Linked DNA regions of Homo sapiens. The protein of the gene in region 5 interacts with the protein of the main gene of each other region in a biochemical or structural test. Each region holds a gene or a part of one and is shown on either strand. Other genes may lie near its edges. The genes, in order: LDB3, DLG4, USH1C, SNTA1, KCNA5, SYNPO2 and RGS3.

The links.
Region 1: the proteins of KCNA5 (region 5) and LDB3 interact in a test that uses a peptide from one of them, tested with the Homo sapiens proteins (one large-scale study listed by IntAct).
Region 2: the proteins of KCNA5 (region 5) and DLG4 form a complex in vitro, tested with the Homo sapiens proteins (2 studies listed by BioGRID and IntAct, with this or other methods).
Region 3: the proteins of KCNA5 (region 5) and USH1C interact in a test that uses a peptide from one of them, tested with the Homo sapiens proteins (one large-scale study listed by IntAct).
Region 4: the proteins of KCNA5 (region 5) and SNTA1 interact in a test that uses a peptide from one of them, tested with the Homo sapiens proteins (2 studies listed by BioGRID and IntAct).
Region 6: the proteins of KCNA5 (region 5) and SYNPO2 interact in a test that uses a peptide from one of them, tested with the Homo sapiens proteins (one large-scale study listed by IntAct).
Region 7: the proteins of KCNA5 (region 5) and RGS3 interact in a test that uses a peptide from one of them, tested with the Homo sapiens proteins (one large-scale study listed by IntAct).

Annotation. Positions count from the first base shown.
Region 1 is NC_000010.11:86,727,052-86,731,110, reverse strand, and holds part of LDB3 (LIM domain-binding protein 3), read right to left. Parts: intron 1-4,059. UniProt on the Homo sapiens protein: May function as an adapter in striated muscle to couple protein kinase C-mediated signaling via its LIM domains to the cytoskeleton.
Region 2 is NC_000017.11:7,197,119-7,201,177, forward strand, and holds part of DLG4 (disks large homolog 4), read right to left. Parts: intron 1-4,059. UniProt on the Homo sapiens protein: Postsynaptic scaffolding protein that plays a critical role in synaptogenesis and synaptic plasticity by providing a platform for the postsynaptic clustering of crucial synaptic proteins.
Region 3 is NC_000011.10:17,492,859-17,496,426, forward strand, and holds the end of USH1C (harmonin), read right to left. Parts: intron 2,820-3,568; coding exon 2,711-2,819; coding exon of another isoform or gene 2,495-2,710; exon of another isoform or gene 1,555-2,494; intron 1,519-1,554; coding exon 1,474-1,518; 3' UTR 1,042-1,473; downstream 1-1,041. UniProt on the Homo sapiens protein: Anchoring/scaffolding protein that is a part of the functional network formed by USH1C, USH1G, CDH23 and MYO7A that mediates mechanotransduction in cochlear hair cells. Required for normal development and maintenance of cochlear hair cell bundles.
Region 4 is NC_000020.11:33,410,003-33,413,214, reverse strand, and holds part of SNTA1 (alpha-1-syntrophin), read left to right. Parts: exon of another isoform or gene 1-432; coding exon 433-640; exon of another isoform or gene 641-788; coding exon 789-919; coding exon of another isoform or gene 920-1,029; exon of another isoform or gene 1,030-2,883; coding exon 2,884-3,080; coding exon of another isoform or gene 3,081-3,112; exon of another isoform or gene 3,113-3,162; intron 3,163-3,212. UniProt on the Homo sapiens protein: Adapter protein that binds to and probably organizes the subcellular localization of a variety of membrane proteins. May link various receptors to the actin cytoskeleton and the extracellular matrix via the dystrophin glycoprotein complex.
Region 5 is NC_000012.12:5,042,256-5,046,829, reverse strand, and holds KCNA5 (potassium voltage-gated channel subfamily A member 5), read right to left. Parts: upstream 2,952-4,574; 5' UTR 2,683-2,951; coding exon 841-2,682; 3' UTR 42-840; downstream 1-41. UniProt on the Homo sapiens protein: Voltage-gated potassium channel that mediates transmembrane potassium transport in excitable membranes. Forms tetrameric potassium-selective channels through which potassium ions pass in accordance with their electrochemical gradient.
Region 6 is NC_000004.12:118,887,183-118,891,837, reverse strand, and holds the start of SYNPO2 (synaptopodin-2), read right to left. Parts: upstream 2,985-4,655; 5' UTR 2,802-2,984; coding exon 2,697-2,801; intron 1-2,696. UniProt on the Homo sapiens protein: Has an actin-binding and actin-bundling activity. Can induce the formation of F-actin networks in an isoform-specific manner.
Region 7 is NC_000009.12:113,469,868-113,473,926, reverse strand, and holds part of RGS3 (regulator of G-protein signaling 3), read right to left. Parts: intron 1-4,059. UniProt on the Homo sapiens protein: Down-regulates signaling from heterotrimeric G-proteins by increasing the GTPase activity of the alpha subunits, thereby driving them into their inactive GDP-bound form.

The DNA.
Region 1 (4,059 bases), on a different chromosome or scaffold from region 5:
CGATCTCAGCTCACTGCAACCTCTGCCTCCCGGGTTCAAGCAATTCTCCTGCCTCAGCCTCCCTAGTAGCTGGGATTACAGGCGCCCACCACCATACTCAGCTAATTTTTTTTGTAGTTTAGTAGAGACAGGGTTTCACCATGTTGGCCAGGCTGGTTTCAAACTCCTGACCCCAAGCAATCCACCTGCTTTGGCCTCCCAAAGTGCTGGGATTACAGGCGTGAGCCACCACGCCCAGCCCAAGAGATGAAATTCTATATCCCCATGATGACAACATATAGTCTGAGGCTGGAGGCATCCCAGAAAGAAGAGAACTAATTAATATTTGTGGGGACTACCATGGACCAAGCAGGATGCCAGACACTCTATATACAGCAGCTCATTTAATTCTCATGAAAACCTTATAAGGTAGGTAAGCCTTTCTCCCACTTCACAGCTGAAAAAACTGGGGCTCAGAGGGCCCATACGTCTTCCTTAAGTCACAGACCTAGTAAGTTGTAGGCTGGGAATCTCTGTCCATGTCTGTAAGACTCCAGTTCTATGCTAATTTTTCCCCTACCCCATAGAAGAAAGGGACTGTGTTTACTTGAAATTGATCTGGGTTCATGGGTTTGTACAGATGTAGCCCTCTGAGTTTGCTGGACTACTAGTATGTAAGCTGGGCCCTGGGTTGGCAATATGCCAGTAGGTCAGAGTCTGCCAGGAAATCACATTGGCTGGCATGGGTCCCAGCTTAGGAGAGGGCAGTGAAGATCCCTGCTGGGGGGCAGAATTGGGAGCCATCTCCAGGACACTGACATCAAGAGGAGTGCACGTGGAGTCCCCACATACAGGTATCCCCCATGGAGACAGAGAAATCACCCCCTTGAGTTGAGCTTGGGGCAATATGCATGTATTCAGTCCAAGAGAGTTGGAGAGGAAAAGGGCACCACGCTAGCCCCATGTGCAAGGCTCTGATGGTCCAGTTGGGGACGTTATACCTAGGATCACACAGGGCTTCCAATTGGGTTCTGGGAGCCAATGAGCTGCAAAAGTGTTTGAAAACATCCCAGGTGGATGCAGTGATGCTGAGTATAACCAGGCTCGTGTGGAGGCCTCAAGCTGCTGGTGACAATTTAAAGACTATGCAAAAAGATGGACATCCAAGATCTAACTGGTGAGAATGGGCTTTAGGGAAGACAGAAAGGCATCTCTGGAATGAGTCAGCCTGTCAATGACTGCAGCTGTGGGTGGGAGACCATACCTGGACTGGGACAATGCTGGTTGCTTGTGAGAACTTTGGGATGAGTCAGGCTGGGGAGAGAAGGTGTCCAGGGACTGAAGACCAACAAATGAGAAAGGGACAGAACCTCAAAGATGGCTCATAGGTGAGATGGGGCTGAGGGTGGGAACCCTCATAAGGAGTTGTGCCCAGTGTCTTCTTGGTGCAAGGTGGCTTCATAGTGGAGGAGGCCTTCTGCCCACCCAGCACAGGGGGCAACAGGGATGGTCCAACCCCCAGGCTCTGTGGCTGGGTGACATCAGGGCCTGGCTATAAAAGGGTAGCGACCATGGACAGTGCTGACTGCAAGTCCCAGCAGAGTTAGGGTAATAAACTAGGCCAGCTGCAGCAGCCCCTAGGTCTGCCTACAAAAGTTATATTACTGCCCATCCCCTCCTGATACCCACACCAGTGGGGAAGGGCAAGACTTAGAGCAAAAGAGGGATGGGTAAGACATTTTTCCTCCACTAAGGTCGGACCCTTTCCATTGGAACTCAAGTGTCGACGCCAGACAGAAGCTTAACTTTCACCCTGACCCACAGTGCACTTCTCAGGCTCCCAGCCTTCACTTTATATGCTTTGGACTTGAGGGATACTGTCCTGTTCTACTTTTGAATTGCTCACATCTGTTGCTTTGTTCACCTTTCAAGATTCTAGATTCCGTCAGGGTAGAGACTTGTTCTGGAACACTCTTGTACTGCCCAAATGCCAGGAATATTTGGTAAACTGAGTTAGTCTAAAGAATGTGCTATCCTGAGATCTCACTGGTTAGAAAACAGCACATCAGCTGGGAGAGCTACCCCAGATCTTTCTCTTACTAATTTTTTGGAAGTTACAGGAAAATACATGCTCATCAAAAGTGATTTGGAAATATGAAGTGATAGAAAGAGGACCAAAAAAAAAAAAATCCCTCAAGTCCCTCAAAGTTTTCCAATCAAAAGATTTCTTCCTAATGTTAAGACCATGTTCCGGCTGGGTGTGGTGGCTCACACCTGTAATCCCAGCACTTTGGGAGGCCGAGGTGGGTGGCTCATGAGGTCAGGAGTTCAAGACCAGCCTGGCCAAGATGGTGAAACCCCGTCTCTACTAAAAATACAAAAATTAGCCAGGTGTGGTGGCAGGCGCCTATAATCCCAGCTACTCAGGAGCCTGAGGCAGAGAATTGCTTGAACCTGGGAGGTGGAGGTTGCAGTGAGCCAAGATCGCACCACTGCACTCCAGCCTGGCGACAGAGCAAGACTTTGTCTCAAAAAAAAAAAAAAACAAAAGAACCATGTTCCACTTTGCTATATGTTGACAGAGCAGTGAGTATCATGCAGGCTGGTTTGGAGGGAGACCTAACGATCTCCATGTTGATCCTCTAAAGGGCAGTGCTATGGGCCTCTCACAGGCTGGACTTCACTCTCTGGAACTTATTTGTAATATCAGCCTTAGCCACCCCAAGCTTTACGCCTTCTTCTGGTCTCTCTCTTGGACTTTTGCTGTTGTGACTCAGCTGAAATTGCGAGGCTTGCAGAAGCAGACCCACACTCACCTTTGCCACGATTCCCTCTGCATGTGACACAGACCTCTCATCAGCCTGCCCATGGAAAACAGGCCTTCTGTGCCACTGTCTTCCTGGACCTTCCCCAAGTCTCTTGGATCCTTCCAGAAGTTGGGTAACCAGATGTGCAGGCAGTGCCTCAGGACTAGACAAGCCATGGCTTGAATGTAAGGTTCAGAGACCCCTGTGCTGTGCCTGACACAGGGGAGCTATGACTCTGCAGGGGACAAACCCAAAGCCAGTATACTTACACCATTGTCTCTTTTTGGAGGGGATGTATTTAAAACACCCTAAAAGACAACTAGAGAATCTGTTCAAAGAGCTAGAAAATCAGAGTGTTAAGGGGTTGAATTGTATTCCACAAAATTCACGTGCAAGAAGGCAGAGTTTGCCGTGAGCTGTGATCACGCCATTGCACCCCAGCCTGGGCAACAAGAGGGAAACTCCATCTCAAAAAAAAAATAAAAAAAAAAAGGAGACCCACACAGAGACAGACACACTCAGAGGAGAATGTCATGTGAAGACACACACAGAGGGGAGACAGGCTTGTGACAATGGAGGCAGGGATTGGAGTTACACAGCTGCAAGCCAAGAAATGCCAAGGATTGCTAGCAACCGCTAGTAGCTCGGAGAGAGACTATGGCCTCCTGTCAGCACCTTGATTTAGGACTTCTGGCCTCCTGAACTGTGAAAGCATTCATTTCTGTTGTTTGAGCCATCAGTTTGCAGTAATTTGTCAAGACAGCCCTAGCAAACCGACACACAGAGTGAATACAGTGTGTCCCACAGATGGCGGGGTATGGAAGCGAAGTGTGGAACCAAAAGTATATGGCCGTAAACTTTATGACTAGGGTCATCCTATGTCAGAAGTCTATAAAAATTATTCAAGTAAAAACTGTACAGATATTTCATACATTTCCAAAATTTACCTTGAGACACTCTGGTTAAAAAAAAAATAGTAGAGGTGTCTTAATTTTCCCAAATCAGCCAGGCGTGGTGGCTCACGCCTGTATTCCCACAACTTGGGGAGGCCAAGGTGGGTGAATCACCTGAGGTCAGGAGTTTGAGACCAGTCTGGCCAACATGGTGAAATCCCCTCTCTACTAAAAATACACAAAATTAGCCAGGCATGGTGGCATGTGCCTGTAGTCCCAGCTACTCAGGAGGCTAAAGCAGAAGAATCGCTTGAACCCAGGAGGCAGAGGTTGCAATGAACCGAGATCATGCCACTGTACTCCAGCCTGGGCAACAAGAG
Region 2 (4,059 bases), on a different chromosome or scaffold from region 5:
CCAGGGTGCCAGAAGAGCCAAAGTTAGGTGGAAGGGAAGATATTCTGCCAGAGATGCCAGGGTGGGGTGGTAAGGGGATATCAGATCACAGTGACATCAGGGGTCAGGAATTTATAGGTGACATCAGAGGCTGGTTGTCCTAGGGGATAAAGGATTTGAACGTTATATGTCCTCAGTATGCCAGGGATGGGGAAGTCAAAGGGAGCATTAATATTACGCTTTGGGGGTTTTCTCTGGGTTCCTGTGTCACTCGAATCTCTTAATCCATAAAATTCTTCTCCCTCTTTTTTCCCCCCACCTCTCTGCCATCCATTCGTTGAAAAAACTAGGTCATTTGTCTAAAAGAATTTCCCACATTCTATGAGGGAAATTCTTTTGTTTTTTTGGGGTTTTTTTGAGAAGGAGTCTCAGGCTGGAGTGCAGTGCCGTGATCTTGGCTCACTGCAGCCTCTGCCTCCCAGGTTCAAGTGATTCTCATGCCTCAGCCTCCCAAGTAGCTGGGATTACAGGCGCGCGCCACCATGCCCAGCTAATTTTTGTATTTTTAGTAGAGACAGTGTTTCACCATGTTGTCCAGGCTGGTCTGGAACTTCTGAACTCAAATGATCCACCCGCTTATGCCTCCCAAAGTGCTGGGATTACAGGCATGAGCCACCTTGACCAGCCTATGAGGGAAATTCTAACAGGGAAATTACTGCTTACCCTCCTGTGGTTTGTTTAGCCTATGCCTCTGCCCCTGTATCTCCTGTAAACTGGCAGTTCATTCTGGAGGCTTGATCAGTTTCAAGTTCAATTCAGAGTTTTTTTTAGTAACTCCTGTATACTTCATAGGTAGCGCTACGTTCTTCCTACAGCATCACCACAGGATGCAATAATGCCTGGTTGTCTTTCTGTCAGGTAAGATTAATGGTAGGTTCAGGGTCATCAGCCCAGTCCATCCATTATCTAGCGCCCCATCAGCCTTTCAGGTAAGTTTTAGCCACACTGACAATCACCGCCTGGTTCTGATAAGTATCAAGGACTGCAAAATGGTGGTGATTGTCATTTACTAGTGGGAATTCTTCTGTAAAAAAGAAAAATCTCGACCAGGCACGATGGCTCATGCCTGTAATCCCAGCACTGTGGAGGCCAAGGCAGGCAGATCACTTGAGGTTAAGACTTTGAGACCAGCCTGGCTAACATGGTGAAATCCCGTCTCTACTAAAAATACAAAAATAGGCTGGGCGTGCTGGCTTACGTCTATAATCTCAGGTACTCGGGAGGCTGAGGCAGGAGAATTGCTTGAACCCAGGAGGCGGAGGTTGCAAGGAGCCAAGATTGTGCCACTGCACTCCAGCCTGGGTGACAGAGCGAGACTCCCTCTCAAAAAAAAAAAAAAAAAATTCCTCCAGCTTGGGTAACATGGTGAAACCCTATCTCTACAAAAGACAAAAGTTGAAAGTTAGCTGAGGCTGGGCGCAGTGGCTCACGCCTGTAATCCCAGCACTTTGGGAGGCCGAGGCAGGTGGATCACAAGGTCAGGAGTTCAAAACCAGCCTGGCCAAGATGGTGAAATCCCATCTGTACTAAAAGTACAAAAATTAGCTGGGCGCAGTGGCAGGGCCCTGTAATCCCAGCTACTCGGGAGGCTGAGGCAGGAGAATTGCTGGAACCCGGGCGGCAGAGGTTGCAGTGAGCCAAGATCGTGCCACTGCACTCCAGCCTGGGTGACAGAGTGAGACTCCATCTCAAAAAAAAAAAAAAAAAAGTTAGCTGAGCATGATGGCACTCGCCTGTAATCCCAGCTACTCGGGAGGCTGAGGTGGGAGGATCGCTTGAGCCCAGGAGGCGGAAGTTGCAGTGAGCCAAGATCACACCACTGCACTCCAGCCTGCTGGGTGACAAAGCAAGACCTGCCTCCAACAAAAAAAAAGCAAAAACAAAAACAAAAAAACAGCCCTATGTCAACCTGTTGGTTACTCTCTGAGGTAGCTGGTACATGAAAGGGAGGATAAATGCATGCCTCTCTCTGCATGCCTCTTTCCATTCATTCACCAATTTCAGAATGAATGAGATTGCCTAGCATCCTCCAATTTTTTTTTTAATTATTTATTTTTTTGGGATGGAGTTTCACTCTTGTCGCCCAGGCTGGTGTGCAGTGGTGCGATCTTGGCTCACTGCAACCTCTGCCTCCCAGGTTCAAGGGATTCTCCCACCTCAACCTCTCCAGCAGCTAGGATTACAGGCACCCACCACCACGCCTGGCTAATTTTTTGTATTTTTAGTAGAGACGGGGTTTCGCCATGTTGGGCGGGCTGGTCTCGAACTCCTGACCTCAGGTGATCCGCCTGCCTCAACCTCCCAAAGTGCTGAGATTACAGGCATGAGCCACCGCGCCCAGCCAAAATATTTTTAAGTATTATTATGATCTTAAAGATTTTAATATATTTAACGAGTTTTCACTGGACAGTAGAAGCACCTTCAGTTTGGATCCTGTGTCTTTGCTGAGACCCTATTAGTCCTGGATACCTTCCTTGCTCTCTAGTATGAAAGAAGTTAGAAGCTCATCTTACAGATTTATTGCCAAAGATTTTAAATTGGCTGGGCACGGTGGCTCAGGCCTGTAATCCCAGCACTTTGGGAGGCCGAGGTGGGGGGATCATGAGGTCAGGAGATCAAGACCATCCTGGCTATCACGGTGAAACCCCATCTCTACTAAAATATACAAAAAAATTAGCCAGGCGTGGTGGTGGGCACCTGTAGTCCCAGCTACTCGGGAGGCTGAGGCAGGAGAATGGCATGAACCCGGGAGGCGGAGCTTGCAGTGAGCCAAGATCGTGCCACTGCACTCCAGCCTGGGCGACAGAGCGAGACTCCGTCTCAAAAAAAAAAAAAAAAGAAAAGAAAAAAAAAGATTTTAAATTGACCCTTCTTCCAAGGAGCCCAGGTTCCTTTTGTTAGGTTATGGTATTTAGGAATAGTACCACATGATTTTAATATGGTTTTACAGTATTATTTCATATTTTGTAGGGGCTGCCACACCTCATTATTTGTTTCCAAAATGTCTTAGCTTTTCCACACAAATTTTTCCAGTCAAACTTTAGTGTCAACCTTCCAAGTTCCCAGTAGGGAAACAACATTAAAATTCTGATTAGGATTGAATGGAATGTAGATTAATTTGGAGCCGGTTGAGATCTTTAGCATATTAAGTTTTTCCATCCAGAGACACGGTGTGACTCCTCACCCCTTCCAGTCTTGTTTTATGTCTTTCAGTAAAGTTTTGTCATTTTCTTCATACAAATCTTACATTTCTTGTCAAGTTTCTATTTCTAATAATTTTATAGAAATTTTTTCTATGGCAAAAGGGGGCTTTTTATTCACTACATTTTCTTATTGCTGGGAAGTTACTAATTCCTGTTATTTATCTTACAAATAGCCACATTCCTTTTTTTTTTTGTCGTTTTTTGAGACAGAGTTTCACTCTTGTTGCCCAGGCTGGAGTGCAATGGCGCGATCTCAGCTCGCCGCAACCTCCGCCTCCCAGGTTCAAGCAATTCTCCTGCCTCAGCCTCCTGAGTAGCTGGGATTGCAGGCATGCACCACCATGCCCGGCTAATTTTGTATTTTTAGTAGAGATGGGGTTTCTCCATGTTGGTTAGGCTGGTCTCGAACTCCCAACCTCAGGTGACTCACCCATCTCGGCCTCCCAAAGTGCTGGGATTACAGGCATGAGCCACCGGCGCGCCCAGCCTGTTTTGGTTTTTTTTTTTTTTTTTTTTTGAGATGGAGTCTCGCTCTATCGCCCAGGCTGGAGTGCAGTGGTGAGATCTTGGCTCACTGCAAGCTCCGCCTCCCAGGGTCAAGGAATTCTCCTGTCTCAGCCTCAGGATTAGCTGGTATTACAGGCGCTCGCCACCACACCCAGCTAATTTTTTTTTGTATTTTTAGTAGAGACAGCGTTTCTCCATGTTGGCCAGGCTGTTCTCAAACTCCTGACCTCAGGTGATCCGCCCGCCTTGGCCTCCCAAAGTGTTGGGATTACAGGCATGAGCCACCTCGCCCAGCCAACAAATAGCCACA
Region 3 (3,568 bases), on a different chromosome or scaffold from region 5:
TACCAAGTTCTCGGGATCCAGCTTAGTCTGCATCCACTGTGGGATGAAGTGGGGGATTCAGCTGAACATAGGGCTGAACCTGGGGGATGGGCAGTGGGTGTGTCCCCGAGGGGCTCTCTGCAGTGTCCCACCTCAGGAAGGGGTTTTCCTGTGGTCCCCTCACACAGAGGCACTCTCCCTAAGACTGCCTTCCCTTGGGACCCCAGTCCACTTCCTTTCCATACCCAGGGTTTGGTGGGGGAGGAGAGATGTCATAGTCATCCTCTGGTAGGGGTGGTGATCATGACTTGCTGCCCACGGTCCTTGCTGCCTCAGCAGCCATGTTGGGTGGGATGTGACCCCACCCCCGGCCACAGCTGATTGGACCTGTGACTGGTCCCTAACCCAAGGGTCGCCCGCTCAGGTGATTTGGCCTGATCAGATTGTACCACAGGAATTTGGAATGGGGAAACAGAGACGGGGTCAGGCGAGTCGTGCTGATACAGCCCCACCCTCTTCCTCAGAGCTAGCAGCCCTGGTCCCTGTCACCAGAAGAACTGTGACATTCCCCCTGCTGGGCCCCCGGAGTTATGCCTTCCTGCCTCAAGCCCTTGCATTTCCCATGAGCTTCTGTGGGATGTGCTTCCACGGAGGGAGTGGACCCTGCCATCTTCCTCCCTCACATGCTGTCGTGGTGACCTCAGGAGAAGCATTGGTGGCTGTGTCGTTCTTGAAAGAAGCTGGGCACCCCATATCATGAGGTGACCCTTCGGGGCTCCTGCCTTCAGCTCTGCTTTCTGGAATTGAGCAAAATCCCTGCCACACAGACTTCATCTCCTACCATCTCTGCTGAGAAGACATTGAAGCCCAGCCCAGCCCATCTCCTGCTTTCTCAACCTCTGCTCCAAGCCAGCCCTGGCCATTTGATCACACCCTTCATGTCAGACCCAGATCACAGCACTGGGATCTGTCTATCACCCTTGAATAGGGGCCACAAACCTTATGGTTTTTTGATTTGCAGCCTTGAATCTGCTGCCCAAATCCACACTCACTCCTATAAGCTGGAAAATAAATCTATTTTATTAATGAGCTCAGAGTAAGGTTTGGAGTGACAATCCTGGCAGCAATTAGAGCAGAGGGCAGAGGAGAGGGATGGAGAGAGAGAGACTCCAGTGGGGTCTTATTAGGGTTCAAGGAAGGAGTCCCCCAGAGCTGGGAGAGACCAAATTCACTGGGCCAGAGGAAAGGAATGAGAGTCTGGATCCTTGAGATCTTCTCCCAAATGGCTGGCTGCTCCCTTTCCTCCACGTTGGCCTTCAGAAGAGTGGCCCGAGCTGTTCCTTATCTGGCCCTGGTTCAGGGCCAAAGGGAGTTTGAGATTCCTGGGTGATAGATTCAGGTCCCAAGGATGCCATCTGGTGTGTGTAGTGTGGCCTCTCTCAAGGCTGATCCGAGGCTTTGTGTTCACGAGGTGGGGCCGGAGCTCACTGTTTCCTAACGGTGAATTTGGTTTCCCCTTTTGGACTTCAGAAGAAGGTCCTGCAGGGAAGTGGAAACAGCCCAGGTGGATACAGGCTTTGTGGGTGCACACTCAGCCCAGCCAGAGCAAGGCCCCACAAGGGGGAGTACCCACTCTGGCAGCACAAGGCCCTGCCACCCTTTGGAGACCCCTCTGGGTGCAGGCCCCAAGTGGCTACACACCAGCCACAGCCACAGCACACAGGAGGCCAGGGAGAAAGCGGGAGGGACACCTGGGATGGGGGAAGGAGGAGACTGGGAGGAACAGGGGCAAGAGTCCTTTGCAAAAGGCAAGTAACAGAAAACATAGGGCCATGCAGGCCACCCCAGAAGCCATGGTCTACCCGGCCAAGTGTCTTGGGAGCATGAGGCCCTAATGTTTTGGGAAAGTTGTAACAGAAAAGTCAAGTCCAGGCTTGGGTCTGCCCCAGATGCTGCCATCTGTGGCTTCAGGCCACACCAAACACCAGTTTCACAGCCACCTGCCAGCTCTGTCCACGGGCACATCCCTATCACAGGGTGAGAAACACATCCTACAGCTGGGTTCCACGGTATATCCCACAGATAGAGCCCAGAGCCAAGGAAGGGAGAAGGCAGAGAAGACCGTTTGGTCTAAGCACGGCTCAGGCCATGACAGGGCACAACAGGACATGAGCAACTCTAATCCACCAACCCTGGTTCTTTGGACCAGCCTTCAAAACCTCTTAATAGCCCTGGTTCTGGCCAAGTGTGGGGGCCATGGTGGAGCAAGAGCTCCCAGGAGGTTGGCATTCACAGGAAGGGGAATTTTCACATTCTGTTGAGGACATCTCTTGGGGGCAATTCCAGCCAGGCTTCCTGTGGGCTCCTTCAGCCCCACATGCCTGGTTCGAGGCATTGTCTGTGTCCCTCAGAGAATGTTGCCCAGGGCTTCATCCTGCTCATTTGGGTGCTGCTTGGGACCCAAAGCAGGTCCCAGGGCCGTGATGAGTCAGGACACCTGGGTCCCAAGCAAGTACTACAGACTGGGCTTTGCACCACTTCCCTGAGGGGAGGGCTTTGAGTCTGAGGAATTCCACTGTGGCCAACAGCAGGCCCCAGGCAGCACTTCAGGGATGGCGCCTTGTGTACCCTCCAGACGCCAGTCCAAAGAACCTGCTGACAGCGTGGGCAGCAGATGGCCACTGCAAGCAGCAGGGACACACAGGGCCCTGTGGCCCGCCTGCCTATTCACCGTGGGCTCCAGCTGCAGGAGGAACCCGTGTCTGTGCACGGCAGCACGGTCTTCAAGGAGCTTTCGGACCGGTTGGGGGCTTTCAGCTACGGAGGAGGGAAGAGAAGCTCTATATATACAGAGCAGAGCAAGAAACACAAAACAGGCTTGGTTACTCCCAGGCAGAGCTCCATGGGGCTTCTCCTTTCACTGGGCTCCTGCCTCGGGTTCTGCCTAGCCCCTGGGTTCCAGAATTAGGAGCTGCGAGACCCTGGTTTCTCCAAGACATGTGTAGAGCTCAGATTCTGCTGGGCACGGGGAGCAAGCAGGCCCAGCCACGACAGGGAGGCAGGGCATGGTCAGTGAGTGGGTGAGTGGTGGGTGGGTGAGGGCTGGGGAGGTGATGGGATGAGGTGAGGATGGAGGTGAGACACCACACAGAGGCAGAGAAACAGAGAAAGGCAGACAAAGAGGTAAGAATGGATGCAGAATGACAAGGACAGAGGAACAGGGACTCAGAGACAGGGATGAAGAGAAACAGGAAGAAAGAATAGGAGACAGTGAGAGAGAAAGGGGACCGGGATGAAGGGGAAGGAGGGGGGCAGATAAGATGTTGACAGGAAGGAAGGAAAGGGTGAAAGAAAGACAGAGAGGGAGGAGGAGAGAAGACAGAGAGACCCACAGGACACAAGAGACAGACACACAGGGAATCACAGAGAGAGACAGTCTAGGCCAAAGCTCCCTGGAGATCCCACAGCGTGGGGACAAAAGCCTGTGGTCCCGGCTGCCTAGAGGCACAGTATGAGTGAATGCAGTTAGACATCAGGAAGACCTTCCAGAGAGTGAAGGATGGACACAGACACCTTCTAACCATCTAAT
Region 4 (3,212 bases), on a different chromosome or scaffold from region 5:
GAGACCATCCTGGCCAACATGGTGAAACCCCATCTCTATTAAAAATACAAAAATTATATGGGTGTGGTGGCGTGTGCCTGTAATCCCAGCTACTTGGGAGGCTGAGGCAGGAGAATCACTTGAACCTGGGAGGCAGAGGTTGGGCCATTGCAGTGCAGCCTGGGTGACAGAGCGAGGCTCTGTTTCAAAAACAACAACAAAAACCCCACAAAATATATGAACACGTGTGTATATGTCACACTCGCTTGTTCCTATGCCCCATGAAGCCCCAGCAACTGTGGCTGGAGCCCAGCAGTGAGGGTTGCTCCTGATTCTCTCACGGACATCCCCCTGGTTTCTCCTGGTTTGGTGGTGGGTGGGGTTTCTTGGGCCAGGGTTGGGCAGCTGCAGCCTAATGGTCAGGTCCTTGTCTCCACCCATTTGTGCCTGCAGGTATCTGGAGATCTGCTCGGCAGATGGTCAAGACACCCTCTTCCTGAGGGCCAAGGATGAGGCTAGTGCGAGGTCGTGGGCGACTGCCATCCAAGCCCAGGTCAATACTCTGACGCCGCGGGTCAAGGATGAGCTGCAGGCACTGTTGGCAGCCACCAGCACAGCTGGGAGCCAGGACATCAAGCAGATTGGCTGGCTAACTGAGCAGGTACCTGCTGGGCCTGGGACCTATCCCTCTCTCTCTTCCGCTCCTTTGGAGCTGGCCCTGTTCCCAGTGCCCCTGGCCACCTCACCCTGCCCTGGCCCTCTGCCCTCTCTTCCCCCACCCATCCTCACTGCTGTTTTGTTCTCTGCAGCTGCCCAGTGGGGGCACAGCCCCCACCCTGGCCCTGCTAACTGAAAAGGAACTGCTCCTCTACTTGTCTCTCCCCGAGACCCGCGAGGCCCTGAGCCGGCCAGCCCGTACTGCCCCACTCATCGCCACCAGGTACCCACAGGCAGGGGCAGTATGTCTCCCCCAGAACTTGCCAGGAGATGCTCCAGCAGGGCCCCAGAAGCTGGGAACTCCAGCCCTGTCCACCCTCAGCTATTCCCCAGGTGACCTGAAGCAAGTCTCTGCCCTGTCTGGGCCTCAGTTTCCTCATCTGTAAAATGGGTGCTTGGAACAAAAGGATATAAGGTCCCCATTAGCCACTCATTCGCTGACACTTATGCCTTGTGCTGCATGGTTCAGAGGGCACAGAGCTGACCCCAACAGTTTCTGCCTCCAGAGAGAACCTTGTCTGGCTGGGGAGACAGACCCAGGAACAGCCATTACAGTGCAGGGTTTGTAGGAGCCACTTAACTCTGTTGGGGTAGTAGAGGAAGGCTTCAGGGAGGAGGTGACATTTGAGCTGGACTTTGATGGATGAGTAGAAGTTTTCTGTTTAAGAAAGGGTGAAAGAGCATCCCATGCAGAGAGAACATCATGGTCAAAAGTACAGAGGCATGAAGGGCTATAGCATGTTCATGGAGCTATGAGTTTGTGATAACCAGAATTCATGCAGGAAATGGAGAGAAGGGAGTTGGCAGGGCCTGATCTTGAAGAGCTTCTATTGCCTGATTAAGGAATGTTAGCTTTAGCTTAAGAGTTTGGTAGTGTTGAAGGGTTTAAGCTGGGGAGCGAGGTGCTCTGGTTGCTTTAAGAGAATCCCTGTGGCTGCCACGTGGAGAATGCAGCGGAGAGTGCAGGATGGAAGTGGGGAGGTGCTGCAGTCATGCAGGAGAGATGATGGTGGCTGGGGGAGGTGGAGGTGGGTGGCAGGAGCAGATGGGGAAGAAAGGCAGCATTGGCATTGGAAACCACATGGGTGTAAAATTAACAGGGCTCCGTGCTTGCCAGATGGGGCGGGTGAAGGAGGGGTCCGGAATGAACAGGAGGTTTGGAGCTTGTGTCTGGGTGAGCGTGGGACTGGGGGTGGGGGTGGAAAGGGAGGAGGCTGGAGCAAGATGCTGAGTTAAGTCCAGAGTGTGTGTGGGATGGAGAGGGAGCTTGGATAGGAAGCCTGGGGACTCGAGGGTCTGCAGCTCAGGGCTGGAAAGTCGAAGGCGGGTGTCAGCAGCAGTCTGTGGCGGGGGGAACTGAGCTATAGGAGAAAGAGTGGGTGGAGGGAGGAACAAAGAGGGATATGGGGCAGAACTTTCTGCCCCAGAGAGGGGCAGTTGGCTTACCAAGGCCACACAGCAAGTGAGAGTCAAGCTGCAGGGGTCTGAAGTCCTTGTCCCCCATGTCTCCTTACCTCAGGCTGGCTCTGGCCCGTGTGTCAGGAGCCTGCTGGCTACTAGGGATAACTAGGTCCTGGACTGTCTGCCTAATCAAGTGATTCAAGTTAGGCAACAAAAGTTTACTGAGCACCTACTGTGGGCAGGCATGGTTTTAGTTACTGGGAATACAGTGGTGAACACAAGATCAAAATTTCTAACCTAGTTGACATTCTAGTGAAAAAGACAGTCAAAAACCAACGAAAACAAATAATAAAAAGTATAATTTCTGGTACCATGATTAAAAAGTAAGGCTAGTGAGTGACAAGGGTGCTATTTTGGACTGGGAGGTCAGGGAAGGCTTCTCAGAGGAGGTGACATTTAAACTAACATCTGAAGGAAGTGAGGGAGTGAGCCGTGCAGATAATCAGGGAAGCATGTATAGGCAGAGGGAAGAGCATATGCAAAGGTGCTGAGGCAGGCATGTGCTAGGTGTGTGTGATGACACCAGTATAGCCAGAGCCAAGGGAGTGACGGGGAGGGTGGCAGGAGATGTCTCCTGCTGAGTCAATCAGTGCCCCCTGGCAAGTCCTGTCCTGTTAGGTGGTAAAGGATTTACAGGGTTTCTTCCCAGGTCACTGGCCCCTTTGCCCAGAACTATTTGCCTCCGGCCTGAGGCCTCATGCTCAGCCCTCTGCCCCCAACCCCCAGACTGGTGCACTCAGGCCCCTCCAAGGGCTCAGTGCCCTACGATGCAGAGCTCTCTTTTGCCCTGCGCACGGGCACGCGTCACGGTGTGGACACTCACCTGTTCAGCGTGGAGTCACCGCAGGAGCTGGCTGCCTGGACCCGCCAGCTTGTGGATGGCTGTCACCGGGCCGCCGAGGGTGTGCAGGAGGTGTCTACAGGTGTGCTGGGAGGATCTGGGAGTGTCCCTCTGGTAATAAGCCTCTTATCCCCAGGGGCATTCAAGCTTCCTTCTTTAGGGCACTTCAGGAGGGGATAGAAAATGGGGTTTGGAGGTCAAGGTGGGTGGATCA
Region 5 (4,574 bases):
AAAAATTTCAGAAAATGTATCAGCTGCAGAAAAACTAACACTTGCCTCAACAAGGTAACCTTTTATTTCCTGGGATAAAAATAAAGACAATAAATTATCAGAAGTATTCCTCCAATATCATTAAAATGCTTTTTGAAGAAAGTTACAAGAATTGTTTAAGGCGCACAGAAAAAGTCAGATTTGCCTTTCTTCAAGAACATACTCTGCCCTAGACACAAAGCACCAATACCACATCCCAGAAAAGACAGAGGCTTGGAGACACAGGAAACAGAACAGCCCATACCAAGATCTCTGACTCTAATATAAGTAACACAGAAAAACATCAGGACAACTCTTTCTTCCATAAATACAACATGTATCTTGAAAATATACCCAAAATATCTCTATCTGAACTACAGTACAAAAAGCCACTTACCAGGCATAAAAATAATATTTTCCCCTATACACAAATACAATCATATGTAAAGCAAATTTGGAACACATGGATGGAGGAGTTACATAATCTCTTGGGATCTGGGCTATTTAGAGTCATTTTTGTTTGGGTTATCCCTCTGCTGGGTATAGGAGACTGGCTACAAATACATCCATCTCACAGCGCTCACCATTTCCACAGCTCCTGCGTCATGGAATGTGGTACTTTTTAAAAATAGGCGACCCTTGGGTGTCATGGAAAGAATAGAGAAAATGGGGGGATCGAGGGAGGGAGGAAAGGAGTGAAAGGAGAGGGGTAGACTGAGGTTACAGTGTGACTTCAAATACTCTGCGGTATAATGTAGATATCCATGTTCAGCAAGCCTCCCATTCCCTACTCCACTGCCACCAGTCTGCCTGAATCTCCTTTCACAAATCTGTTTCCCGGCTGGTGTCCAGGCAGAGGGCATAAAGGGACCTCCGCAAGTCCACGTTGCTCTTGGCCTTGACGTTACACTTCTCTAGGGGGCAGCTGCCCCTTCGGGCACTGTCTGCATTCTCCAGGGTCCCCCCAGCCTTGCAGAAGGATCCCCTGCTCCCGCTGACCTTCCGCTGGACTCCTCTGTCCAGCCCCGGCCCCTGGCTCTGAGTGCCCTGCTCTTCCTTAAGGACTGCCGGCTCCTCGTGATCCGTTTCCCGGTGGTAGAAGTAGTTGAAGTTGGAGACGATGACGGGCACAGGCAGGGCAATGGTGAGGACCCCGGCGATGGCACACAGCGAGCCCACGATCTTGCCCCCAACAGTGATGGGCCTCATGTCCCCGTAGCCCACAGTGGTCATGGTGACCACTGCCCACCAGAAGGCGTCAGGGATGCTAGAGAAATGGGTTCCCTGGTTGTCAGCCTCTGCGAAGTAGACGGCACTGGAGAAGAGGATGACCCCGATGAAGAGGAAGAAGATGAGCAGCCCCAGCTCCCTCATGGAGGCCTGCAAGGTCTTGCCCAGGATCTGCAGCCCCTTGGAGTGGCGGGAGAGCTTGAAGATGCGGAACACCCGGACCAGGCGGATGACTCGGAGGATGGCCAGGGACATGGCCTGCTGCCCATTCTGGCCGCCTCCTCCACCCCCTGGCTGCTGCTCTGCCAGTTCGGTGCCCAGGGTGATGAAGTAGGGGAAGATGGCCACCACATCGATGATGTTCATGATGTTCCGGGAGAACCCTGCCTTGCTGGGGCAGGCGAAGAAGCGCACGAGCAGCTCGAAGGTGAACCAGATGACGCACGTGGTCTCCACGATGAAGAAGGGGTCGGCCAGGGTCCTGGGCAGGAGCGGTGCCACCGTAGGGCCAGAGGGCGGGGCCATGACCCCGCTGCCGTTGGCCCCAGGGGCGGGCGCGGGAGGCTGGTGGGGCGCCGGAGGGTGGCGGAGCAGCTCACGTTCATCCCTGAACTCAGGCAGGGTCTCCAAGCAGAAGGTGATGATGGAGATGAGGATAACCAAGACCGAGACGATGGCGATGGCCCGCGCGGACCCAGAGCTCTCCGGATACTCGAAGATAAGCCACACCTGGCGCTGGAACTCGTTGCGGGGCAGGGGCTTCTCCTCTTCTTTAATGAAGCCCTCATCCTCGCGGAAGCGCTCCATGGCCTCGTCCCCCAGCTGGTAGAAGCGTATCTCGTCCGCGAACACGTCCAGGGAGACGTTGACCGGCCTCCGCAGGCGGCCCCCGGACTGGTAGTAGTAGAGGATACCGTCGAAGCTGGGCCGGTTGCGGTCGAAGAAGTACTCGTTCCTCAGGGGGTCGAAGTAGCGCAGGCGCTTGGCGGGGTCCCCCAGGAGTGTGTTGGGGAACTGCGCCAGGGTGCCCAGCTGCGTCTCAAAGCGCAGCCCGGAGATGTTGATGTGGACGCGCTGGTGGTGCAGGGACGCCGTGCCCAGAGCCTGGTCCTCCACCGTGCCCAGGCCGGGATCGCCTTCTTCCTCCTCGTCCTCGGGAGGCGGCCGTCGAGGCCGTGGCAGCTCCTCTGGCAGCGGAGGCAAGGGCCGCACTCCCGGGTCCGGCAGCGGAGGCAAGGGCCGCACTCCCGAGTCCGCGTCTCTCTGCGCGCCGCGCCCCTTTGGCGCCGGCTCCTTGGGCCCATCGCTGAGCCCAGCCGTCGGGGGACACTGGAGCTCTCCCCCTGTGGCCTGGCCGCAGCCTGCCCGGGCCTCATCGCCTCCTCTGACGGTCATGGCACCGCCGTTCTCCAGGGGCACCAGGGCGATCTCCATGGCGCGGGAGCAGAGGGCATGCTGCGCCCCAGCTGACCGGCTCCCGCGCCCCCTACTCACGCTCCGCGGGCGCCTGGCGTCAGGCTCCGCTCCAGCGGTCGGCCGGCCCCTCTCTGGGGAGAGCTGGGGTTGCTGGCGCGATCCCCTCGCTTGGCCCTGACGTCAAGAAGCCGCTGCCCTGCTCTCTGCCTCTCTCTCTTCTGGCAGCCCGTTACCAAGCAGCCGAAAAGCCTCCTTCCAGCAGATGCAACCTTCAGCCGCCCCTCTCTGGCTGCGCCGCGCTTGGCCTCCACCCTCGGCGCCTCCCCCGCCTTCCCCTCCTCTCCCCCTCCTCCCGCTTCCCCTCCCGGGTCTCGTGGCAGCGGGTGTCTCCCCGGAGGGCGCAGCTGGGGCCCCTAGCAAGGGAAAGGAGGGGCTGAGAAGGGTGCAGCCCAGCGGAGGGAGGGAAGGAGTGGGGAGGATGGAGGAACAGGTTGTACCGACAGCGCTGAAATTCCCAGGGCAACCAGATGAGAATAGCTCTGGATTTCAGTTCACCTGGGAACCCGCTGGAAGCCGAGTGGACTCCAGGAGGAACGAAGTGCCTTGGGCTAAAGGGACGAGGCTTTGAGCTGAGTCGGAGTATGAGAGACAGAGACGGGAGACACCAGTCCTTTTTATTTTGGAGAAATAACGGTATTTCTTTGGGAAGGATTACAGAAGGGAGGGGGGCCACGTAGTTACGGACCTTGAAATACATGTATCAATGGAGAAGCATCTCTCTTCCCGTCTTCCTACAGATCCACAAAAATGTACAAGGGGGTTGGAACCCTGCAGGATTCCCATGCCCTAGCCTGTTTCCAGTACAGACCTGGTGGCAGCCCAGGCAAGCAGCCTAGTCAGGAGATGAGCTGTCTGGTCTCAACCCAGCAGAACCCCTCCACCCGCTCCAACGAATCCCATTTGCAAAAACCACAGCAGGGAAGGGGAGAAGCGATTTTTACAATCCTGGTGAGGGCTAATCCTGCCTGGTGAATCTTGGACCGAGCAACTGCATCTAGGTCCATGAAGGAGACTGAGGGTGGAGGTGGCTTATGAGAGGGAGCCAGGGAGGTTGTCCAATCTCCAAGGCTGGAGCATTCCCAAGAATGGAATAATAACAACCAATACTTACTTGGCTCTCATTATGCACCAGCCCACTCTCAGCACTTTACAAATATTGTCTCTGTGTATTCCTACAGCAACCTATTTTGTAAGTACTATTATCATCACCATTTTATAAATGAAGAAACTGAGGCACAGAGAGATTGACAGACTCACCCAGGCTTATGCAGGTGGAAACTGATGATGCTGGAACTCAAACTCAAACAATCAGAGTTTGGCCCTTGTCCCCTATATTTCACTCCTCTATAGAAATGCATAATCCCTTTTCCTGATACAAGCACTCCCTCACTCCAACATCTGGCCTGAGAACTTTAGTTCCCTGCTGCAGAAGGCAGGATGATGGCTGATATAACATATTAATCTTTCTAGGTTGGGACACTAGGAAATCTTCCCCTGCCCTGTCTCAACCCCTGCAGGGTTTTAGCAGGCATTGGTAACCAAGAGGAATCTGTTTCAAGGTGTGTGTCTGGAACTGCCAGACACAGTCTCCAGAAGTTTCTTGGTTTTAAATTATCATAAAGTGGCTGTGTTTTTGAATGTCTGTTTTCATTGTCTATTTTTGTTTCTGCATATTGCTTCAGATTTATATGCGTGAAGTTAGGACCTCTTGTCAATGAATGTCTCTATCCAAAGGGTGTGATTTGGAAACTTGGTCCTGGGTGCACAAGTGTGTGTTGCAATAGCAGCGCATAGACACACAAACTTGGGTCAAGGTTTGAGAAGTATGTGTGCATATGGCTTTTTAAGAG
Region 6 (4,655 bases), on a different chromosome or scaffold from region 5:
AGTTTTCCTTCAACTCCCAAATTAATTTTGTGCATGTTATTCAAAACTGTGAACATTTGATTTGACAGCAACCATCTCTCTAGCCTTTCTGTCTCTTTCCTTGCATCCAGCCCTAATAAGCTATCACCAGTCCTTACAAGAAGAGAAAGTTTATGCCCAAGCAACATTCACTTTGCCTTGAACACATTGAGATACCATGAATAGAATTGAATTGACTTAATATTTTAAATAAAATACAGTGATCCTAATGAGGCAATGGCCTTGATAACAGAGAAAGTGATAAGCGCTTTGTTCCAAGGGATTTCTCCCACAAATAATGCTAGTATAAGAAATCAAACATAATCATTTGAACTAAAAAAAGAAAAAGACCAACAAAAATTGTGCATTGCCACAGTAATTTAGAACTTACATCTTCTATAGATAGCTCTTTAGTCTTTTTAACGTATGGACAAAAGGTAGACTGTAGACTACAGTCTGTCTCTCTCTCTCTCTTGCACACACAAACACACAAAAATTAAGGCAAACTTCCAGATACTTTTATAATGATATTTTAAAATCTATAGCTCTAAGTATAGTATCACAAACTACAAAAGCAAAGCAAACATCTAGATGCCTTAATAATGATCTTTTGAAAACCACAAATGTATTGCTGGGTATTTTAGGAAGGATGATTTAGGGGGAGTGTAGGACTGGATTCTGACATAGCCTAACAACCTTACTGAATCCTGAAAATAGAGATGCCATTAGCAGAGAATCTCCACAGCACCCTTTCCTAGCAATCTGCTTCAGCTCTTCAGTGAATCGCCGCAAAGAGGTCCCACATTGAAATCGTCACATGCAGAACTCAGAAGAAACCCACTACCCACTCTATTCTTGAGGCCTGGCTGCCAAAGAGCCACCAGAGAACAACAGCACTCAGCCACTCTGTCCCCATATTTCAATTAGTAGGCAAGCGATTCTAAAACTGTACACTATCAGGATCGTAGAATACTTGGGCAAGACAGAGCTTCGTAGACTGCACAGTCCAATTTCTTTCTTACTTCTTTACCACCTAAGTTAAAATATTTGTCTCTCTCTCCCTACACACACACACACACACACACAGAGAGAGAGAGAGAGAGAGAGAGAGAGAGAGAGAGAAACCGATGAGACAGGAAGGGTGAGAGATTTTCCTAAGGCCAGGCTGCAAGTTAGATCAGAGCTGGAATTAGAACCCAAATCTCATACCTAGAGCCAGCCAACTGCTATTCTAGACTCAGGACAAATCTGCTTCAGTGTCATGAATTCTACATATGCTAAATTGGGCATTCATATTTTATCTGAGGTTGCCTGCTATTGACTCCTAAAGGAACCCAACAAAACCACCTTTCTGAGCCTTTAATCACTCTGCCAGTTCCAAGCTGAAAACTTAAGGCAAGTTACTTAACATCTCTGGGCTCTTTCCTCATCTAAAATTCATGGGTTGAACTGCAGACCTCGGAGGAACTTTCCAGTAATAAAAACTCTGCTTTTCATCTACTGTTTTATGGTTCATTCTTGATGTTTGCAATTTTCACTAGGTGGCAGGATTCCACCATCACATTACGAAAGGATTTACATATGATGCCTGGAAGCAAAAAGGAGTTTCAAAGAAACTTCTTTCTTCGCAAAGGACACTAAAAAAAAAAAAACGTAAAAGGCAGAGGGAAACAATAACTACAAAAAAAAAAGAGTAAAAGCCAGAGGGAAACAAACAATAACTACAAAGGCAATGGCCCATGTATTTCATAAAGATCTGTACCCATTTTTAATATAAGCATAAAATAGGAAATTAATCCCATGCTCTTGCATGTTCTTCAATACAATACTATAATTTGCAATTTGATGATAAGGTTAGGTAAAAGTTTGCTTAGTTTTGTGCATTTTAAGTTTTATTTTAGCTGAATGCCAATTAGAGAATACCAGATCCCCTTGGGCTAACCAGTAATGCAGGCAATCTAATGGCAATAAAAACTTAAAGCATTTTAAATAGTTATTAATGTGTTACAAAGTTACCTCTTAGTTACTCATAATATATTTAGATTATCTTCTAAGTTTATTTTTGAGATCTTGACCAAAAGAGTACATAAGAAGGAATACAGCATTTATTGGATTTTTGCATTTATTTGTCAAATCCTTAAAAGGGTATTCTTTTAAATAGATTTTATGACACTTCATCATACTTTTAAAATTATTGCCCAACATTGGCCTTTTCATGAATGCTGCATAATAAATGTCACTACCAACACTCTATATGAGTCCCCAAAATAGCCAAGCAAAGTCGTTATGCTGAACTGAGCGTTTCTCCTCTGCCAGAGCCAAGTGAAGTGACATCAAACAATAACTCAACTGAACATTCTAAAATTGCCTGGAAGAAACGCTCCCCAGTGTCTTGCTTGTTGTCAGAAGAACATGGTTAACTAGGCCTTTTCCTCAGCTGATAAATATGGCATTCTTCCCACCCACCCCTCATCGATTGCAAGTTAATTACATAGGATGTGGCCCATTACTCTCCAAAGTTTCTTAGAAAATAACTCACTTCCTAGAAAAATCTTAATATCCGCAGCAAAATCAAATAATACTTAGACTTCTGCATCAGAACCTGAAAACACCATCAGCAGGTTGCTTTCATTCCTTCCTTCCTAGCACAGAGCCGTGACACTTCGTTCAGGTCCTACCTTTGCAACTTGTAAGGGCTGCTTCTGCTCCTTGCCACCTTGCAATCTGAACCCCCAGGGCGCCCCTCCAGTCATGGAAATGCAGATAAAATCCCCTGTGCCCATGTTTTCCTTTTAGTTGGGCAGCATGAAGAGCTTGACGAGACAGACGAAGCTTGGGTGCGGTAGAGGATGCGCACTCAGCTTCGGGCGCCTGCCGAGGACGCAAGACTGGGTAATGCAGAGCGTCCGCCGCTGCTGCAGCCGCTGCCCCAGCCGCCGCCCCAGCCGCCTGCTGCGAATTTGTGCGGCTAATGGGCTCATTCTCAAGGAGGCAGAGGCGCTCGCAGCATCCAGGACACAGCCCACTCTTGCGTCACTCTCCTTTGCTCGGCCCACCTTCGAGGAAAGGAAAGCAGCTTCACACACAGGAGAATGTCCTCACGTGGGGCGAGATAAGGGAAAGGAGGACGGAAGGGAGAGCCAAAGTTATCTTGCACTAACAGATTAAATCCAAGCAGTTAATGGTATAAGTATGATTGAAAAACTTACATTTAATAATTCTGTAAATAGTAAAGGACACATGAAGGTTTAATCTCCACGCCATGAATGACGTCCTAAAATAGGAGCGTTGGGAATTCAACTACTAGAGGATTAGATTCTCTCAAATAAATGTTTTGAGACTTGCCACATTTATGAATGGAATAGACAAAAAAGAGTTAAAATGAGTTAAATTACTACTTTTCTGTCTGCATTCTGCTGAATTATTCCTATAAGAGGAAACAAAAGAAAGCACAAACTTTTTGTTAATAAACCTCCAGCTCTGAAAAGTACCTTTCTGAACCATATATTTAGAGAAAGGGGAAGAGAAGAGACAGAAAGGGAGAGAGAAAGAGAGAAAATGAATATGAATTTTTCTCCTGGAAACTACATTCTTATAATTACATCTATTGCATAGTTTTGGGTATGTTAAATTTTAACGTGTTTTGTTTTCTTTCTACCTGCTGATCTTCTTAAACCCAAACCCAACAGTTAGTCAACTGCATAAAATGTACAATGTCACCTACAGGTTTCTTATTTTTATAGTTTGTCATCCCATGTCATGAATCTGGGTGGTCCAATATAAAAGCAGATTTTGTATATTCCAAATATTTAAATGTTTTAAATCTGAATACAATCTGCCAAAAATGTACAAAAAGGACATTTTAATTTTCCTATAATACTTTTGTTTTCCATAACATTCATCCACATAAAAACATACTAAATAAGGAAGAGCCTGGGAAAGTTTGTTTGTGTTACTTGTGGTACCAAACAAAATTTCCAGACACGCTGCCTGTTTCAGCACTAAGAAGCACTATATACAGTAAGTCCTCACTTAAAACGTCACAGATAGGTTCATGGAAACTGTGACTTTAAAACCAATTTTACCATCGACTAATTGATAAAAACAAGGTTAAGTGACTACAGTCTATTTCTGGTCACAAAGACATCACCAAACTTTTAAATAAGATTAAAACACTTCTAATATTAAACATGGAAATAAATGTCAGCTACACATGCATTTAAGAAAGATTAATAAAAACAAGATAATCATGGACCCAATTTTTGGTGAATCAGTGAGTGAGGGCAGCTGTAGTGGTGGTGGATTCAATCAAGGAATAAATGTTTGCAAAAGGAAAATTATAAGGAGTACCTCCTGTCACAATGCAGTTCAAAACCACCACAAATATAGCAGGCTCACTGAGAAATTTCATACAGCATCATCTATTGCTGTGCATTTGTGTGATTAACATATATTTTATGAATTTTTTTTGAAAATAATTTGCATCCATACATTCATTCCTCCTCCAACCCACTTATTCCCATTCAGGATCTCCAGTGGCTTGAGCCTCTCCCTGCAGCTTAGGGCGCAAGGCAGGAATCAGCCCTGGACAGCCCTGACCATCCCATCAGAGGGTGCACACACACACACACACACAC
Region 7 (4,059 bases), on a different chromosome or scaffold from region 5:
AACATCCTACAGGATTCACACACATCTCAACCCAGAGTTCAGGGCCATAGTGAACTACCAGGCTAGGCACACACATGGAGAGAACAAAGTCAATGTTTCTTAGATGTTTACTAGGTACTCAGCACTTTACTATAAGCTTTTTATTTCTTTTACTCCTCACAATAACTCCGTGAAATGGTTACTACTTTTATCCCAATTTACAGGCAAGGAAGCTGAAGATTATTAAGAGGTAAACAGGTTGGCTGGGCATGGTGGCTCACACCTGTAATCCCAACACTTTGGGAGGCTGAGGCAGGATGATCACTTGAGGCCAGGAGTTTGAGACCAGTCTAGGCAACATAGCAAGACTCTGTCTCTCCAAAAACGTTTTTTTAAAATTAGCCGGACGTGGTGGTGTGTACCTGTAGTCCCAGCTACTCAGGAGGCTGAGGTGGGAGGATCACTGGAGCCCAGGAGGTTGAGGCTGTAGTGAGCCATGATCACACCACTGCACTCCAGCCTGGGCAACAGAGTGAGACCCCAACTCAAAAAAAAGAAAATAGCTAAAACAGGTTGTCCAAATCACACAGCCAGTAAGTGGCAGAGCTGGGGTTTGCATTTAGGCAGTCCAGGGCCCCCACTGTTAGCCTCTCTATACCTATCATGGGTTTAAAATTTGTCCACAAAGTCTTTGATACTCTTCCTTTCAAGAGGTGAAGCCTAGTTCCTCCCTTCAGACATGGGCTGGACTTAGTGACTTGCTTCTAACAAATAGAATGTGGTAGAAATGACAGTGGATGACTTTCAACATTAGGATATTAAAGGTATTATTAGTTCCTTCTTTTTTTAACAGCTGTATTGGGATATAATTAACATATCATACATTTCATCAGTTTTGTTTATTATTGAGATGGAGTCTCACTCTGTCGCCCAGGCTGGAGTGCAATGACATGATCTCAGCTCACTGTAACCTCTGCCTCCCAGGTTCAAATTATTCTCCTGTCTCAGCCTCCTGAGTAGCTGGGATTACAGGCATGCACCACCCACACCTGGCCAATTTTTTGTATTTTTTGTAGAGACAGAGTTTCACCATGTTGGCCAGGCTGCTCTCGAACTCCTGACCTTAGATGATCCACCCGCCTCAGCCTCCCAAAGTGCTGGGATTGAGCCACCGTGCACGGCCACACTTCACCAATTTAAAGCATGTAATTTTCTTTTAGTATATTCACAGGATTCTGTAATCAATCACCTCTATCTAATTTTAGAACATTTTCATCCTCCCCTAAAAGAAATCCCATACTCTTTCGCAGTCACACCCTATTCCCTTCTCCCCTCAGCCCTTGTCAACCACTAATCTGCTTTCTGTCTCTAAGGACTTGCCTATTCTGGATACTTATGTAAACAGAATCACACAACGCATGGTCTTTTGTGATTGACTTCTTTCACTTAGCATAATGTTTTCAAGGTTCACCCATATTGTAGCACGTATCAGTATTTTAGTCCCTTTGTGGCCAAATAATATTCCATTGTATGGATATACCACATTTTGTTTATCCACTCATCTGGTGATGGATATTTCAGGTTATTTCGACTTTTTGGCTACTATGAATAATGCCGTTATGAACATGTGTGTGTGTACACATGTTTGTGTGAGCATGTGTTTTCATTCCTCTTGGATTTATACCTAAGAGTGGAATTGCTGGGTCAAATGGAAACTCTACATTTAATTGTTTGAGGAACCGCCAAACTTTTCCAAAGTGGTTGCACCATTTGACATTCCGGCCGGCAGTGTACAAGGGTTCCAATTTCCCCTCAACTTCTTCAACGCCTGTTATTGGCTCTTTTTTTATTATAGTCATTCTAGTATGATAGTATCTCATTGTGGTTTTGATTTGCATTTCCCTGATAACTAATGACATTGAGCATTTTTTCACATGCTGTTAGCCATTTTTCTTTGGAAAAAAATGTCTATTCAAATCCTTTACCCATTTTTGAGCTGGGTTACTCATCTTTTTATGGGAGTTCTTTCTTGCTTTCATTTTTGTATCACTTGCCTAGAAGGAAGCCAGCTGCCACATAATAAGGAAGCTCAAGCAATCCTACGAAGAGGTCCATGCGATGAGAAACAGAAGCCTCCTAATTACAGGTAGCAAGGAACTGAGGCCTCCTGCTGAGAGCCATGTGAATGAGCCATCTTGGAAAGGGACCCTCCAGCCCCAGTAATGCCTGCTCGGACAACTGCAGGTAGGCAGGCAGGCAGGGAGAAAGAAAGGAGGGACGGAGAGAGAGAGCGGGGAGGGGAGGAAGGGACGGAAGAGGCAGGGAGGGAGGAGAAAAGGAGGGAGAGAGGCAGAAAGGGAGGGAAAAAAAAACAAAAACCAACTCAAAAAAGCTTAGAAAATATATGTAGGGGACTTCCATTTCTGGGATGACAGATCCACTGAGGAAAACTAGAAATGCTAAACAAAATATGTTAAAGCATCTTCTTAGATAAACAACAAGAGAGAGAGGAGCTACCAGGCAGGATCTAGGGGAATGGAGGACTGTAGAAGGAAACCTAGTGTTTTTCTGGGCTAATTTCCTCCTGGGGTGTTTTCAAATTCCAGAGGGCTGATTGAGAGATCAAGAGACTGAGTGAGTTTCTGCCTGCTTCTCAGGGCTAGAGGAATAGGAACTAGGGACCAGGGCCCACCAAGAAGCAGGGTTCTTCTGAGCCCCACCTTTTGCATAGGGACCCTGAAGGGTTGCTCCATAGGAATAGAGTGAACTGTAATCAGACACAGCTACTCCAGGGACTACAGCTCGATTTCAAGTACTCTCAGTCCCAACACTGAATTAAGACTAACCCAGTGACCCTAGGCACCTGACAAACGAACAAAGATTTTTTGAAGGAAAATATCATCCTAGGTCTGCATTGAGAAGAAAATAATAATAATAACAACAACTCTCTGCCTATACTGTTTGTTTGTTGTTTGTTTGTTTTGAGTCAGGGTCTCACTCTGACACCCAGGCTAGGGTACAGTATCACAATCACAGCTCACTGTAGTCTTGACCTCCTAGGCTCAAGTGATCCTCCTTCCTCAGCCTCCCAAGTAGCTAGGACCACAGGTGCACACCATCATGCCCAGCTAATTTTTTTATTTTTTGTAGAGATGAGCTCTCACTATGTTGCCCACACTGGTCTCGAACTTCTGGGCTTGAGTGATCCTCCTGCCTTGGCCTCCCAAAGTGCTGGGATTATAAGCATGGGCCACTCACCACTCCCAGCCATGTGCCTGTTCTTTGCAGCAGACACAGCACACCTACAATGTAGATCCAAAAAGGTTGAAAGAAAAAGGATGGAAAAAGATATGTCAGGCAAATATTAAATGAAAGAAGCATGGTTAGCTATGTTAATATCAGGAAAATTAGACTTTATACCTACTAGAAATAAAGAAGACTTCATAACAATAATAGATTTCATAATAAAAATTTCAGCTCACCAGAAAGATAATAATTCTAAATCTGTATGTTGTTAACATAGCTTCAACATATGTAAAGGAAAAACTGACAGAACTGCAATGGGAAATAGACAAATTTACAATCACAGTGGGAATTCTAATACACCTCTCTTAGGAACTGACAGAGAAAACAGGAAAAATCAACAAGGATACGGAATATTTGAACAATATAAAGAGCAAACTTGACCTAAACTTGACATACACAAAGAACACTGCACCCAACTGCTGCAGAATCCTTTTCAAATACACAAAGAACATTTATAAAAATTGACTCTTTGGGAGGCCAAGGCAGGTGGATCACCTGAGGTCAGGAGTTCGAGACCAGTGTGGCCAACATGGTAAAACCCCATCTCTACTAAAAATACAAAAATTAGCCAGGCATGGTAGTGGGTGCCTGTAATCCCAGCTACATGGGAGACTGAGCCAGGAGAATTGCTTGAATCCAGGAAGGGGAGGCTGCAGTGAGTTTACATTGCGCCACTGCACTCCAGCCTGGTGACAGAGTAAGACTCAGTCTCAAAACAACAACGACAAAAAAAAAAAAAAACAACTATATGCTGAGGCATCAAGTAAATTTTGA